Regions from separate parts of the Homo sapiens genome. Here region 1 is linked to region 2. A link means that fine-mapping ties the variant in region 2 to the expression of a gene that starts in the linked region. Tissue or cell type: fibroblasts. Region 2 holds a variant in brackets; the other region holds the start of a gene. All regions are shown on one strand. Distances are between the middles of the regions.

Region 1 (8,155 bases), 210 kb before region 2:
GGGAATTTCCTGAGGAGATGGACGTTTTCTATATCTTGACCTGGGTGGTGGCCCCATGCATGTATACACATGAAAAGGTCTTCAAGCTGCATCTACACTTAAGAGTTGTGCTTTTTATTGAATGTGAATTGTATCTTCCTAAAACACTGTCTAAAAATATTACACTCCTCCCAACTCCCACCATAACCCATCTCTACCCTAGACCCAGGGCATAAGATACAGAAGCAGAGGATTCAGAGAGGATGTATATTTGAAAAAGCTTCCCACTTCTCTCCATTACTCCAAGTTGCTAAACATCCTTTTAGGAATTGGAATTAAGCTGGACTATATACATACATGTACATATAAAACTTAAAAATTTGTAAAAGGCCCCTAGAGATCATCAGAGTTTTCTTAACAAAGCAGGCTTACTTTCCAGTTGGCTTTGATTTGGGGAACTTGTTCTGCTTTCAGTGGCTTCAGCATCTTTGAAGGTGTAAAATGAATGCATTAATGAGAGGAACACATTGGGGCTGGGAGGAATTGTGGAAGCCCACGGGATTCTTCTTTGTATTTGTAGTTTGAATTGGGCTTATAAGAATCTGGTAATTGCTTTGAGAAATGTAATATTGATAAGTTCTTACAATTGCAAAGCTTTAAAGCAAACATGTAGTGATGTGTTCAGGACCTATTCCATGAGTCGAATTCCTTTTCACCCTGATGTAGTATAAGGAGACTTGAGTGTGACAAAGATTTAGGAAATGGGTTTCTTTTTTCTTTTTGAAAGAAGCTTGAAACTAGCTTTTATATATTTATCCTGAGAATGAAAGGTTTTTGTCACTTCAAGCTGTACTTTCTATTTAGAAAATATTCTTTTTTTTTTTTTTTGAGACGAAGCCTTGCTCTGTCGCCCAGGCTGGAGTGCCATGGCGCGATCTCGGGTCACTGCAAGCTCCACCTCCTGGGTTCACGCCATTCTCCTGCCTCAGCCTCCCAAGTAGATGGGACTGCAGGCGCCCACCACCACGCCTGGCTAATTTTGTATTTTTAGTAGAGAAGGGGTTTCACTGTGGTCTCGATCTCCTGACCTCGTGATCCACCCGCCTCGGCCTCCCAAAGTGCTGGGATTATAGGTGTGAGCCACCGCGCCCGGCCTTAGAAAATATTCTTATTTGTATTGCCTTTCTGTGATCTATTCTAAAGAAAAAGAAATATGGCTAGTCAGATACACTCTATAGGCTTTTAAGTTAATAACGCATATTTTTTTTCTTTTTCAAGAGAGGATCTCACTCTGTCACCCAGGCTGGAGTGCAGTGGTGTGATCTCAGCTCATTGCAGCCTCGGTCTCTCAGGCTCATGCAATCCTCCCACCTCAGCCTCTCTAGTAGCTGGGACTACAAGCCTCGAGCTACCATACCTGACTAATTTTTGTATTTTGTGTAGAGTTGGGGTTTCGCCATGTTGCCCAGACTGTCTTCCTGTAAGTAAAATTATCTAAATTTTTAAAATGTGTCCACAGGGTTAGTGCTAAATCTTAGCTTTACTTATCATTGAACACTCAGCCACATTCATTGGAGTCTCAACATTCATTTTCATCTGAAGGCGGTGTGAAAACAGTCCTGTCCCCAGACACTGGCTTTATCCACTGGCTTTATTGCTTAGCTTCCTCCACAGGCATGCCATCTATCTGGAGAAGAGTACTTTGATGGAAGTTTAGTCCTGGGAAAGACCTCAGAGATGAACTATTCCAACCAAGCTCTGCCCTCTTTGCCACACTCTACTTAGAAAATAAATTCAGGCCTAGAGGTGAAGTGCCTTGATCAGGGTCCCAAGGCTGGTCAGAGGCAGAACCGGAACCCTTGTGTCTGCCCAAGAAGGACAACAAGTCCTTTGCTGCTTCTTTTATGCCACAACAGCCTCAGGGTGCTGTGCTCAGTTTGGTAGCACAGTGATGTTAGAGCAACACAATATATTTCCTAGTGTCTTTTCACTAGAAAAGACACCAAGCAAGAGGTCTCCCATCTCCCAGGAAAGAGCAAAGGCCAGAGTTTTACATTGAGATCCTGAAGGCATTTTCTTATCTTTAATCCTAATCCTGTTTGGGTCCAATTTCAAAGAGATGAAGAGCATGCACTTTAGGCCTGACAGACTAGGGCCCTGATCATATCTTCCTAGTTGTATGACCCTCAGTGAGACAGGTAATTTCTTCATGCCTCACTTTCCTCATCTAGGAATGGGGGAGTGCTTTCCACACTTTCTGGAACACAGTCAGGCACTGCCTAATGTTTTCTTTGGAAACCCAGCACGTCTGTACAGCTATTTCCTTTAAAATGTGAGAAAGTTGATTTCCCTTCAACCTTTTCTTTCCATCACTTTTGCATTGCACTCGGCGTTTTCTCTAATTTACAGTTCTAGAGATTGGCAGATGCTCGAAGAAAATCAGAGTCACTACGGATTTATTTATTTTATTTTATTTTATTTTATTTTATTTTTTTGAGAGGAGTCTGGCCGTGTAGCCCAGGCTGGAGTGCAGTGGCGCGATCTCGGCTCACTGCAACCTCCGCCTCCCAAGTTCAAGCAATTAACCTGCCTCAGCCCCAGAGTAGCTGGGACTACAGGCGCACGCCGCCACCCCCGAAACATTTTTTGAATTTTAGTAGAGACGGGGTTTCACCGTGTTGCCCGGGCTGGTGTCGAACTTCTGAGCTCAGCCAATCCCCCAGCTTTGGCTTCCCAAAGTGCTGGGATTACAGGTGTGAGCCACCGCGCTTTTTGGTTTCCAATTCTCTTCCCCAAGAGGCCAGGAATTTTTGCATGAGTTGCCGGACACTGAAGTGATTTGGGACAATACATTGTGTGCCAACGACTTCAAGGTCCCTTTTCAACAAAGGACTGGAATCTTACCGAGATAAATCCCAAGACATGTTTGTAGCAATGCAAAGGACCACAGAAATCTAGACAAATTATTTAATTTTGCAGCTACAGAAACCTAGGATCTCAGGGGCTGGGATACTCCTCAGTTATCCAATCGGGCAGGGCCTAAAACCCAGGTTCAGTCGCCTGGCTCCGAGCTTTTTCCATCATACCAGCTGCGTCTCATTAACTCCACCTCCGAAAGTGCTAAGGAAGTTCCCTCCCAGTGCCTACCCAGGCAGGGTGGGGCGATTCTGTGGCATGGAACAAACCGGGAAAACGACATTTTCCAACTCTCAGCACACAGGCTGCTTTTTATCATTCCTACGGGGCGGGAGGGGGCAGGGAGAGAAGGCTAAGACACCGGGTCCAGTACCCAGAGATTCTAGGGAGAGATCTCTGAGATTGCCTACTTGGTGAGGCCACCTTACTTTCTCCTGGTCTGTTTTCCCCTGTGGGGTGGCTGCATGAAACGTCCTGCTTGGAGGGTTCCCCAATATAAGGTGGACTATTCTGAATGTAGGTCGGGGTGAGCAAGTTCCTGCCGCCGCCCCGTCTCTGCGGTCCTCGGAAGTCTAGGTGGGCTCTTCCTTGCCTTGCCTCTTTCTCCCCAACGGCGGGAGCAGCCCAGGGTTGGGGTGGCTGCGGTCGCCTTGCTCTCTCCACTTCCACGTCTCTTACTCCAGGGAGTTTCATCCGGTCCTCCGTCCTCGGCCCCCACCTTTTAAAACATTTTCCAAAACTACCCCATTAAAAGTGTGCGACTTCTCCGGGCCTGCAGAAGGAGCTCCTGCAGCCCGGCATTCCTCGGATTCCAGCGCTGTGACGTCCCCAAGGACGGCGCGCCTCCAGCTCGGGAGCTCGGGAGCTGGGGCTCCACGTTTCAGCGCGCGCCCGCGGCGCCCCCGGCGCGCGCCCTCCCGGGCCGCATTCCTCCCCGCCCCCGGCCGCGCGCCCAGCGCTCCCTCCGCCTCCCGGCCCCCAGGGCCGCGGAGCCCGGCTCTGGGGTGGGGGAGCCGTGGCCGCCGGCGCCTGCTCCGTCCCCTCCCACTCGCACGGCCCCTTCCTCCCTCCTCTCCCGGCCGCTCGCATTTCCTGCCGCTCTGGCTCTCCCGGCCCCTCAAAGTTCTTTCCAACTTTTTCTCGGCGGAGTGAGCGCAGCGGGCGCAGACTCGGGGGCAGGTTGCTGTGCTTCTCCGGGCTCAGCCGCCTGCTCTCCTGGCTCAGGTCCTCGGGGAGCCCTAGACAGACATCAAGTGGCCACTGGCGCTCCTTCCCCTCCCAGCTGAGCCATCCTCCCCGGCCTCCTCGGGCGGGACAGCCCCGTGCTTAGGTTTTTCTCCTTTTCTCCCCCGGTGCGCCTCTGCTCGGACTCTCGCGCCGGGATCGCGGCGGAAACCTCCCTCCCCTTTCGCCTCCTGCGGCTCCTTCCCTTCGCCCCTCCTCCGCCAGTCACTGGAATCAATTCCGTGGGGAATCGGCTCCGCCGCCGCGAAGGACAGCCTTTCCGCGCGGGACTCCGGGGCGCCACGGGGGCCATGTAAGCAGGTAAGCCCCGTCCAAGCCGGGAGTTGGGCCCGAGGTTGGAGGCCGCCTTGGCGCTCCGGGCGCCCTGCAGATGACTTGGGCAGACGCTGGCAACGCCAACTTGCGATTGGCGCCCCGGGACGCCTGGCAGGGCAGCCTGGGGCGCGGGGTGGCCGGGCCGCAGGGGTGTTATCTCGCGGTGGGAGCTGCCCGCGGTGAGGCGCAAAGCTGGTCCCGGGAGCGAGCTGGAAGGTGAGCGCAGTCTGGGGAGTTTGTGGTTAAACCCACACCCTGGTCCCCTCTCTCCATTCCCTTCTGCGTTTTGGGAACGAGAGAGGGCCTCGGAAGGGCAACTAGAGATACCTAGACCTTGGGGGCTAGAGGATGAAAGACGAACGACGTCGCGGTCGCTGCAGCGGTAGGGGGATGCAGCTGCCCGACGCTCCCAATCACACCCCACCACCACCGGGAAGGAATCTTGAGGGGAGCGGAGTTTTCCTGCCCTCTCACTAGGCCCCAGTGGTGCCACCGAACTCCTGGGCGTCGAGGCTCCTACTTGGGTGGTCGAGCTGGCTCGTAGAAAAAAAGCTGTGGCCAAACAATTTCAGATCAGGTCTTCACCTCAAACTTCCAAAGTTGTAGGTATTAACAGCCTCTCCTTCCCCACGTGACCCCCAGATCTCAGGTTTGAATACTTGTAAATGGGGTTTACACCTTTTCGTTTGGAGAGAGCAGTGAGGTAACGCTGCCCCTATCTCCCTTTCCCTCTCACTTCCTTGGGTTCTTGTTCTCCAACCTTCTCATCCCCACCTACAATTTCAGAAATTGTGGGGTTTCCGCTTAAGTCTAGGGACTGGCTGTCGCAGGTTCTTTGTGAAGGTGAGGAATCTCTAGACTGCAGGTGCGGGCAGTTACAGAGTTTCCACCAATGTGTTAACTTCTTGAAATGGATTAGTTTACTCATTCATCCAACAAACCCAGCTTCTACTCTGCTAGGAACAGGATAGAAAGATGCTAAATGAGATCACAGGGCAGGAGTCTGCAGCCTAGTGGAGGAAACTTGAAGGCCGGTGAAGAATGATAATACATGGAAGAGGGGTTCTGTGAGAGTCTGAGGCGAGCTTGGTCCTGGTGAAGGGTGCACTACACTTAGAGGATAGAGGTTGTGCTCCTCTGGAGGGTGTATTCCAGGCAGAGGAAACAGCTCGTGCAGAGTGAACACAAGAAGGACAGAAAGTTTCCCTAGCCATCTGGGGGCCTGAGGGGCATTTATGGCCATGTTGGTGCAGTGTTGCTGGGATAGCATTCTCTCCACCCCCAATATCAGAAATAAATCTAGAAGCACGTTAGCCACTTATGGGAACCACAAGTAGCTTACCGAGGAGCCAAGGCCTCCCTAATTGGATACACCTCCATGCCTGCTGCTGTTTTACCACAAGCAGCTGTTGTATGATCATCTACATTTTAATTGGCCCATGCTCGGTTTCATTAAAATGGTATTGATTCTTCTTTTTTGTCCCCCACATTCAAGCAATGATTCCTTTTTTAAAAAGGCTGTTTGACAGCCGTAGGTGTGGTAATACCGCAGCATTACGGACCTTGTATTATAAAGTTAGCTAATTGTTTGGTGATGAGGTTGAAGCTTGTGCCATAGAAATGACAGCCTTAATGAGCGGGAGCTGAATGGCATGATGCCCTTTTTGCCCAGTCTGAATGGGTGGCCATGAGGTGCAAAATTCGTTCATCTGTATGTCACTAAGTTTGTTATACTTTTCTCTGCTTTTAAGTCATTACTATTGCTTTAGCACAGTTGTGCTAAAGTCGTTCTTTTCTCTGAAACTTTATGAAAATAGAAAACACTATCTTGCACATTTTTGTAGACTAATGGCCCAGGATTCAGCAAATCCTGCCTAGAAAAGTTTCTTACAATGCAGTAGCATTCTGTACGTGGTTTGCCTTTCAAGGGTGTCTCTTCACTGGACTGAAGTGGTGTTGTAGTATTGTTCATAGTGGCTGAGTCCTGGCTGAGGTGGCAGACATCCAGCTTTTGGTGACCTCAGGCCAGTACATCAGAGTGGGAAGAACACACTGACTTCCTACAACTTTGGGTGTTTATCCAAGCCCCTCTACCAGCATCTTTTCTTATCTCAGGAACAGCCCCTTCACAGAAGTTTTCCTGAAGGTGTAGGGACCTGCATGAGAGAAATGGCTGAAGAGAAGCCCACTCCCACTAATCCCAGACATTTGCCCAGTTTCCATCATTGGCTTAAACATGTAATTATTATTAACACTTGAGTTATTCAGATTTGTGCATACTGTGTCATGCTGGTAGCTGTAATAGAAAGGACAGTTAGGCTTTTAATAGGGAAGCACCATAAGGAATTCAGAGAAAAATCAGAATTTTTAGAATAATTCTTATTTGCCCTGAACGGATGGGCTAAGTGTCAAGAACTATGAGGATTTTTTATTTTCCAGTGCCTTCCTTCCTTATTAGAGGTTTAAATTTGCTCCGGGGAAGCAAACATCAACCCTTTGATTACATATTATAGCCCCCCTGGGTTCCATATTCTTGTCATTTTTGAACAAGGATTTCATCAAATTCTTGCATTTGAGCTTCATTACTTAGTCACCAAATGCTGTGTTTTTAAAAAATTCATTTTAAGCCTGAGAACAGTGCTGTGAGCTTTGTTAGAGATAAGGCATGAGAAAGACAAGATGAAATACTTAATTAGCCAATTAAGGAATGAGGGAAAACAAACACGAAAGCTTTGGTAGGGAGGAGGTTCAAGTTAATGTTAAAATACGCTTTTGGATCTCCCCTTACGGATTTAAATTGATTTAATTTACGCTTCCTCTGTATGCATCCCATGGAGGGCTTATTGAGTGGTCCAAGGGGTATGTGTGGCAAATTCTGTAGCTTTTCCTGGCTGTCAGTGTGCTGGAGCAGGCGGTCCAGGTTTGGGAGTTTGAAATATAGCTAGGTTGGAATTCTAGCGCTGCCATTTTTTAGCTGTGTGATGTTGGATGGACGTCATAGCCCTTCTGAGCCTCAGTTTCTTCATCTGCAAAATGGATCTGGTAACATTTGGCCTCTCAGGATATGTATGGAGAATTCAGTGTCATGCTGTATAACAGTACCTCACACAGAATAGGTCAAGGATGGCTATTTATATGTTCAAGGACTTGTATGTGGCCATGAATGTGCTCTTTGTGTGTGATTTTTTTCAGCAGCCTGAATTCACATGTGTGTCAACATACACATAAAGCTTTGTTTTTGACTTTTTTTTTTTTTTCAGTCTATTGGCTCAAAATAAACATGTTGGCTGGCAGCTGCCATGTGGCTCCTCCTACAAGAGGAAATTGAGAGGTGGGGGACCAGGCAGTAGAGAAGTTTGAGGAGGGAAAGCCACTGAGAGATTAGAAGGGCAGAGAACAAGATCCTTTTCCTTGTATACTTCTTACTGTAATGATGGTCCAGTGTTTTATATAAGGATCCTTGTATTTCTAATGTTGAAATCTAGTTGATTAAAGAATGTTAGGATAACTCTGTCTGCCTTTAACTAGAGTACAAAAGCTAGCTGCTGTATCTTTGCAGCCTTGATTTCCCTTTTTGAAGCCCAAATATAAACAGTAAACTGCAACACTTCTAGTGTAATGCCAGCCACTGGTTATTTGAACTTTAATGTTGTCTTTCATCTGAGAAGCCTAGAGTATTTGACAAACGTTAAATCATAGA
Region 2 (8,155 bases):
TATAGCCTCTTTACACAGACTGGCCATTCTAGTGAAACAGGTGGTAAACCTTTGGGCTGCCCAGAAACATTTTATCTGTTTTCACTTACCTAGGAAGGGGAAAGATTAGCGGGTCATCCAAAATCTGTATGTAAGCTATCTTCATTTTCTTCCCCAACCTTCTCCTCCTGGGAAACACAAATGCTATCTCATCTGACAAAAGGTTTTAGAGGATAAAGCTGAAAAGATTGGATTGGGATCTTTTTGTGGCTTGGGGCGGAGCCTTTTGCTAAAATCTCAAGAATGCTGCTTTGAGTTTAGCTAGGGTGGCTCTCAGAACTGGGGTGCCTGGCATTCTCAGCATTTCTCAGGGGCCTCCCACCTCTGACAACTGCAGTGTTAGCTAATACATACCTTGAGCATAGAACTGAATGCTGTAATTCAGAGCCATTTTTTTTTTCAACTTGAACATTGTACAATTTTACTGCAATTTCCTTTGAACTTTCTTGCCACTGTTTGGAATCTTAAAAATTCATTAGCCTTCTCCTTTCTGACATAAAGCTACTCTTCATCAGAGATGAGTTCCTATGTATGTCCTTTGTTCCTTCAATAGCTAATTAATGTGCTTGAGGATACTTCAGTGGAAAAAAAGGTTTAAATATGCAAATTACTAATAAATGTGTAACCTTATGTAACTTGTGTTACATCAAGTAACAAGCTAATCTAGTTTGTTTCACTGGACTAGGCTTGTGCTCCCTACTTCAGTATTTTGATGCTTTCCTTGATCTTTGTTTCACAAAATGTTGTGAATTTTGGTATCATTCAAAACAAATGACATTTATTAGGTTTCATTTTGAAACGATGTACAGACAAGTCCCCAACTTAGAAACCGGTTTGTTCTTAAGGTTCTTGCGTCAGCCCATAGAAGCCCACTGACCTCCACCACAGCCCAAATGGAGGGCTGTGATAGCCAGATCTGGTTGGCTTTTGTGGGCTGACCCAGACATTTAATCACCATCTCTTATGTTGTTGCCGTAAGAAATGCATTCCAGGTTGGGACTTGGGATCCTGAGAGCACATTCGCCCCCTGTGGTGGCCGCTTGCCACCTTGCAAGATGGAAGCCCAGTCTCCTTACTACCAAACTGTAGTTGTAAGCAGAGGGAGGGGTGAGATGTTTATAGGACATTCCCTAAGCTGGGGAGTGATTTTTATCACTATTCATGTCAACTGTACTTTGGTATAGACTCCCTATCAATTTAATAATATGAAAAGCCTAAAATAAAACTATGCATGCTATTCTATGTGCTATTTTATATCAGTAAATAAGCTTATGCTTGCCAGTTGTATACACAGTTATGAGGTGTATAGAACTGACTTTGACAGTATTTTTTGCACTGTTTCCTATCTGTTTTTATAAAGTCTTATTTAGATATTGGACCTTGTTGATGTTCTCACTGCCCTTGTGCTTGCTATAAAATGTTTCATATGTGCCTTTACAAATGTGAGATCTTTATTCTAACCTTTTTTTGTAAAAGATATCTATTGATTTCCATATGCAATAAACCTTTTTTTCAGAGAAAAGTTACATCTTCTCTTTTCTGTACTGTATATGTTTGCATTAGTTGAAAGTGCCTGGGAAAACCTGCATGCTTTGTTTTCTAAAGCCCATTTATTGCTACCCAGTTTTTAGTCCTGCATAACCTTATCATACTGAAGATTTAGTTTGAAATTCCCAAGGTTGTCACTGTTAGAAGAAACCTGAAAGGGGTGATCACTAGGCAAGTGGAGTGAAGAATACATAGAAATGGGTCTTTCTCACAAATGCAGCAATAAGCCTCGTTAAGCTCCAAGCCCCTACTCACTCCTCCTTCACTGTCATTTACTCAGGTACCAAACTGTTGATGTGGAAAAGGCAGGCACCAACCAGGCTGCTGTAGAAAATTTAAATTCTTGCTTTTGCCTTTCAGCTTTATAACAGCTCAACTTGTGTCCAGGTTTAAAGGTGGCTGTCCTGTCCCAGACTTTCAGCCAGTAACCACCATAGCACATTCACGGTGAACCCCTCATATGTGGGTAGATGCTTTATGTATCCTTGGTAAGTAACAGAAAAGTATAACAACTTCTCCCAGTAATGCATTGACAACCCCATGACTATACAAGCAGTTGTTGAACTACCAGAGATCCCAACTAGTTTCACATCAAAAAAATGAGAATACTGTAAGCCACTCTGGGGTGAGAGGATATGGCAAGCAAATCTCATTAAACATACACTTAATTCTCTATGGTGACTGTGGCAACAAAGCAATTATAATTATTGAAAGAAAGGCTACATAATGTTAAAAAAGATGATAGTAGACAAAATAGGCCAATGAAAATGGAGATAAATCGGGTAGAATGGCAGGAGAACAGATACACTAATTCATTTTCTCTTTTGTGAGCTGAGCAAATAGAACCAGTTTCTTTTCTTTGGTTGATAAACAGAAAAAGTAGAGGTTTGTTACATAATTGAGAGAGAAAACAGTAACCTGGTAGACGTATTTGTCTCCAAATATACTGTTAGCAGAGCTGGGGAAGAAAATTTTTAAAAAGAGAGAAACAGAATAATTCCCCACAAAACTAAAGATAAGTATAAGAAACAGCAACGCACACACACAAATATGCAATAAGATGACAATACCAGAACCAAATATGGCTATTTTATGTGATTTTACCTCTTATTTTATTTAATGAAAATAAATGGGAAAAACTCACCAGATTTACTAGTTAAGAAACATAATGGGTGCAAAAAAAAACTCAGCTAAAGAAAAGAAACATCTAACAAAAAGAATAAATGAGACTTGTATAAACACAGCAAAACTCCTTCTGAGGCAAAACTTAGACAAATTGATAAACTTACCACATTCTTGAATAGGAAGACTCCTGAAGAGGCCAGTTCTCTGTATATCACTGACTCTAGTGCAAGTCCAATAAAAAAATCACAACACCACCAGAAAAATTCAAGGGAACCCAGAAGGATTAGCCCTAGTATATACTAAAAGTTTTGCAGTGCAACAATAGAGTATTTTACTGGCACAAGAATAGATCAATAGAATGAAATACTGCAGAAATAAACCAAAGTCTTAGAGAAATGATAATGGTACCCTTCCAAATCAGCATGGGAAAATAATAAATAATTCAACAAGTAATTCAATAAATGAAAACTAAAATTTATTAAGGAATACCATGGGATATTTTATTATTTTTATTTATTTGAGACTGGGTCTCGCTCTGTCGCCCAGCCTGGAGTGCAGTGGCACGATCTTGGCTTACTGAACCCTGTGCCTCCTGGGCGCGGGTGATCCCACCTCGGCCTCCCAAGTAGCTGGGACTACAGGCATGCACCACCACGCCCGGCTAATTTTTGTATTTATTATAGAGATGGGGTTTTGCCATGTTGCACAGGCTCATCCTGAACTCCTGGGCTCAAGTGATCAGCCCACCTTGGACTCCCAAAGTGCTGGGATTACACACATGAGCCACCATGCTTGGCCTGTATATCTTATTAAACAATTCTGCCCGGCGTGGTGGCTCACGCCTATAATCCCAGCACTTCGGGAGGCCGAGGCGGGTGGATCACGAGGTCAGGAGTTTGGGACCAGCCAGACCAACGTGGTGAAACCCTGTCTCTACTAAAAATGCAAAAATTAGCCAGGCGTGGTGGCGCATGCCTGTAATCCCAGCTACTTAGGAGGCTGAGACAGGAGAATCGCTTGAACCCGGGAGGCGGAGGTTGTAGTGAGCCGAGATTGCGCTATTGTACTCCAGCCTGGGTGACAGAGCGAGACTCAGTCTCAAAAAAAAAAAAAAAAAAATTCTAGCTAGATGAAAGATTTAAATAAAAATTAATATTACTTTTTACAATAAACCAGTAATAGTTTTATTCACTTAAAGATGAAAACAATCTGCTTTTGTACAGCAAGGGTCATGAAAAATAAAGTTAATGGACAACTAGAGTAAAAATATTTTTAA[T/C]ATATGACAAGGAGCTAATACCCCAATATATACAGAGCTCAGAAGTTATTATGAAAGACATTAACATATAGCAAAACAAGCAATGGCCATGTGGTATCACAGAAAATTCTGGAATTTCATATCAAGGGTGATAGGAGGCTCTTTTGTTTTAGTGAGACAATTTTTTTTTTTTTTTTGAGACACAGTCTCGCTCTGTCACCCAGGCTGGAGTGAAGTGGTGCGATCTCGGCTCACTGCAAGCTCCGCCTCCCAGGTTCACGCCATTCTCCTGCCTCAGCCTCCCGAGTAGCTGGGACTACAGGTGCCCGCCACCAAGCCTGGCTAATTTTTTGTATTTTTAGTAGAGACGGGGTTTCACCATGTTAGCCAGGATGGTCTCAATCTCCTGACCTTGTGATCTACCCGCCTCGGCCTCCCAAAGTGCTGGCATTACAGGCGTGAGCCACCGCGCCCGGCTGTAGTGAGACAATTCTTAGTGGTACCCTAGATAGCTTCAGGATGGGGGCAGGTCTTCAGAAAGACTAAGACTTGATTAGGAGCTTAGAACTTTCAGCCCCATCCCCAACCTCTGGAAAGAAAGAGATCCTAGAGATTGAGTCAATTTCAATGGTGAATTAATCAATTGTGCTTATGTAATGGAATTGCCATAAAACCCCCTGACCAATAGCATTCAGAGAGCTTCTGAGTTGGTGAATACATCCACATGCCAGGAGTGTGGCATACCACAACTCCATGGGAACAGAAGCTTCTCTCAGGATCCTTCCGGACTTTACCCTATGTTCACCCTCTTCATTGGCCTATTCATTTGTCTTTTTTATAATAAACCAGTAATAGAAAGTAAAGTGTGTTTTAGAGTTTTGTGAGCTATTCTAGCAAATTAATGAACATAAAATAAGGGAGGAGGTGTTGTGGGAAGCCCTTGACTTTGTAGCCAAGTCAGACAGAAGTATGGTTAACCTGGGAACCTGAATAACTTGTGACTGGCATCTGAAGTGAGGGCAGTCTTGTGGGACTGAGCCCTTAAACCAGTGTAGTCTGACACTAACTCTGGGTAATTAGTGTCAGAGTTGAATTGAATTGTAGGACACACAGTTGGTGATTGAAGAGTTAGAGAATGGTTGTGAGGCATAAAAACAAAAACACCACACATTTGGTTTCAGAACTGTTGTGAGTCAAAACAGCTCATATTGGTGTCAGAAGTGGGATTAGAAAGACCCTGATTATTTAGTGTCAGAAAATTTAGGATTCACTAGAATGGTCCTAGCTAATGGAAAAGTGGTTTGGGAAGAGAAAGGATGAAAGGGTGGGAGATACAGAACTTTTGATTCCTGGGTGGTCATGTAGTCACCCATGATATGGACCAGCATGACAGCTGTGCTGTTATCAGTGACTAAATTTAGTTACAAATGGAATTTGGAGGTGGATCTAACTGCTGAGGAATTGGTTCATTGGATGCGTAAGGAAATGTAAATGAATAGGAAAAGTGCAGAACATATAACTCCTTGGTTTTTGTTATATCTGTAATAGCTAAAGTGAAATTAAAAGAGTGCTGGATGGACTTTGATGCTAAACCAAACTCAGATTTTGGTCAGTCTGAACTTTGGCCACTAGCCTTGAAGCTGCCCTCAAAGGGTAGAATTATGTGGAGACAACAAAGGGTACCTCTAAGACCTCTGGTCACCAAGAAGTTGGTGTGTGTAGGGGGAAGGTACAACCAATAAACTATTGAAACCAGGGGGGATAGTGTGGAAGAGTTGTCGCATTTGTAGATCAATATCATCAGCTTCCTGAAAAACCCTTACTTAAGTGGATTCTGAGAGTAACTGATTTAGAGACAGTATCTTTGGTTTTGAATGCTGCAGAATGAAAGAACATGTCTGGGTTGACAGAGGACTCACTGCTCACTGTGGAACAATCACAGATGGCTATATCTGACACAGACACACAGCAGGTTATTCCTGAAGAAACAACCAGCCTGGTGGACTGGATAAAAGGCACTATGAGGTATGTTTACTCTGAGAAGTGAGGCTGTCCAACTCCCCCTATAAATGTTAAAAGCAACACTCTGATGAAGTACCTGATAAACTGTGTATGCAAGTCATGTGGGACTGGCTTTTTGGTAATTGGGACACTCACCCATTGAATATGCCCATTGCCAAGATCATGGTCAATGTTATGATTAAGAGGCATGGGCACCTTTTGCGTGGGTGTCGCATATAACTTTACTGCTGCAAAACTGAGCAACAGTCTTAGAAGCCCTATCAAATTTGCTCTCTCTGCTTCCTCTCATGGTTCTTACTGATGCTAATTAAAACACTAGACTAATTCACAGGAAAATATGAATTAGGCATAGGTATGAAAGGTAGAGGGATGAGTCCAGGGATTCATCCTAAGAGGGTAGAAATTTTTAAATGGTTAAGAAATGGAGTGAATAAAGAAAACATTGATAGTGGCAAAACAAAAAGCAAAAAGAAAGGGAAAGAGTCAACAGACTTGTCCCAGCAGGGTGAAAACCTTGAATGGTTATTAAAAAATGGGATGAGGCCAGGTGTGGTGGCTCACGCCTGTAATCTCAGCACTTTGGGAGGACAAGGTGGGTGGATCACCTGAGGTTAGGAGTTTGAGACCAGCCTGGCCGACATGGTGAAACCCCATATCTACTAAAAATAAAAAAATTAGCCGGGCATGGTGGTGCACACCTGTAATCCCACCTACTTGGGAGGCTGAGGCAGAAGAATCGCTTGAACCTGGGAGGAGGAGGTTGCAGCGAGCTGAGATCATGCCATTGCACTCCAGCCTGGGTGACAGAGTGAGACTTCATCTCAAAAAAACAAACAAAAAAAAAGGTATGACTAAGACAGACATTGATAGGGTTAAAACAAAGGTCTTAATACAGCACTATTAAAGTTTGGGTGGACCAAAGTGTCTCCTAATGGTATTAGTCCATTTTCACACTGCTGATAAAGACATACCCAGTCTCGGGTATGTCTTTATCAGACTGGGTATAAAGAAAAAGAAGTTTAACAGACTCACACTTCCATGTGGCTGGGGTGGCCTCACAATCATGGTGGAAGGCAAAAGGCACGTCTTACGTGGCAGCAGATAAGAGAGAATGAGAGCCAAAGGGAAAGAGGTTTCCCCTTATAAAACCATCAGATCTCGTGAGACTTATTCACTACCACGAGAACAGTATGGGGGAAACCACCCCCATGATTCAATTATGTCCCACCAGGTCCCTCCCGCAACACATGGGAATTATGGGAGCTACAATTCAAAATGAGATTTGGGTGGGGACACAGCAAAAACATATCAGTCACCCAACATTAAAGGGTCCCAAACAAGTTCACTCTATTTACTCCAGTTTGGAGAAATTTTAAAAGCCAGAAGGCCAAGATTACAATGAGAAACCTGACCTGGAATCACAGGACAATAGTAAGATTAACCAAGACCAAGACTGACAAAAAGGTCAGAGTTCTTTGCCTCAACCCCCTGCTGGTGACCCAAAGCTTTATGTAAATGAATGGGTTATGTACATGAATGGGTTATGTACATGAATGGGTTATGTACTCCACCCATTTAGGGGGTGGAGAAATTTCTGGAACTCCTTTACATGGGGGCTTCATGGACTGTGGTATCCAAACCCACTGGTGAAGCTCTAACATAAGCTAGAATTAGGTTGAGGGAATACAGAAGAGTTGACAGGATTATGAAAGTTAGAATGTTTAAACAGACTTTTTGTAAAATTGTGTCTCCTTTACTTGAATGTTTTGTGGGAATGGATATTATGTCATCTTGGGGAACACTTTCTTTACCTAATATTGTAAAACTAAAACTTGTTGATGATGTCCGATGGTGGCTACAGTTAGGACTGTAGGGGTTGATGAGATTAAGGTGAAAATTTGTACAAAAAGTTGCATCTGAATGTATTATGGGGATGGACATTAGGTTTAACTGAGGAACTGTGTCTGCAAAGAAGAAGGTGTATAAATCATCTTCAAGCAATATTAATTGGACATGCTAAATGGGAACCAGTAAGATTGCCCAAGCCCACACAGTGTAGAATAAAAGCTGGAGTGCTGATATACACAAAATCTCTGTGGGATAGTTCTTTGTGGAGCACTGGCTGGGACTTACGGCAAAAGCCTGTGAGCACCTCCCAGCGATGAC

Evidence for each region. PIP is the estimated chance that this variant, and not a neighbour inherited with it, causes the effect.
Region 1: it holds the start of PTPN14, and the variant in region 2 is fine-mapped to the expression of PTPN14 in fibroblasts (GTEx, PIP above 0.99).

The regions. Positions count from the first base shown.
Region 1 is chr1:214,547,468-214,555,622 of GRCh38, reverse strand. It overlaps PTPN14 (protein tyrosine phosphatase non-receptor type 14), which reads left to right and starts at 4,021. Exons shown (of 19, transcript NM_005401.5): 1 at 4,021-4,440. RefSeq lists enhancers at 2,895-3,715, 3,716-4,536, 4,537-5,358.
Region 2 is chr1:214,342,106-214,350,260 of GRCh38, reverse strand. PTPN14 (protein tyrosine phosphatase non-receptor type 14) reads left to right here. Exons shown (of 19, transcript NM_005401.5): 19 at 1-1,561. Among named protein-coding and RNA genes, the nearest start is that of SMYD2, 65 kb to the right of the region's middle. RefSeq lists an enhancer at 7,228-7,729. The variant T/C (reference allele first, on the strand shown) is at 3,989.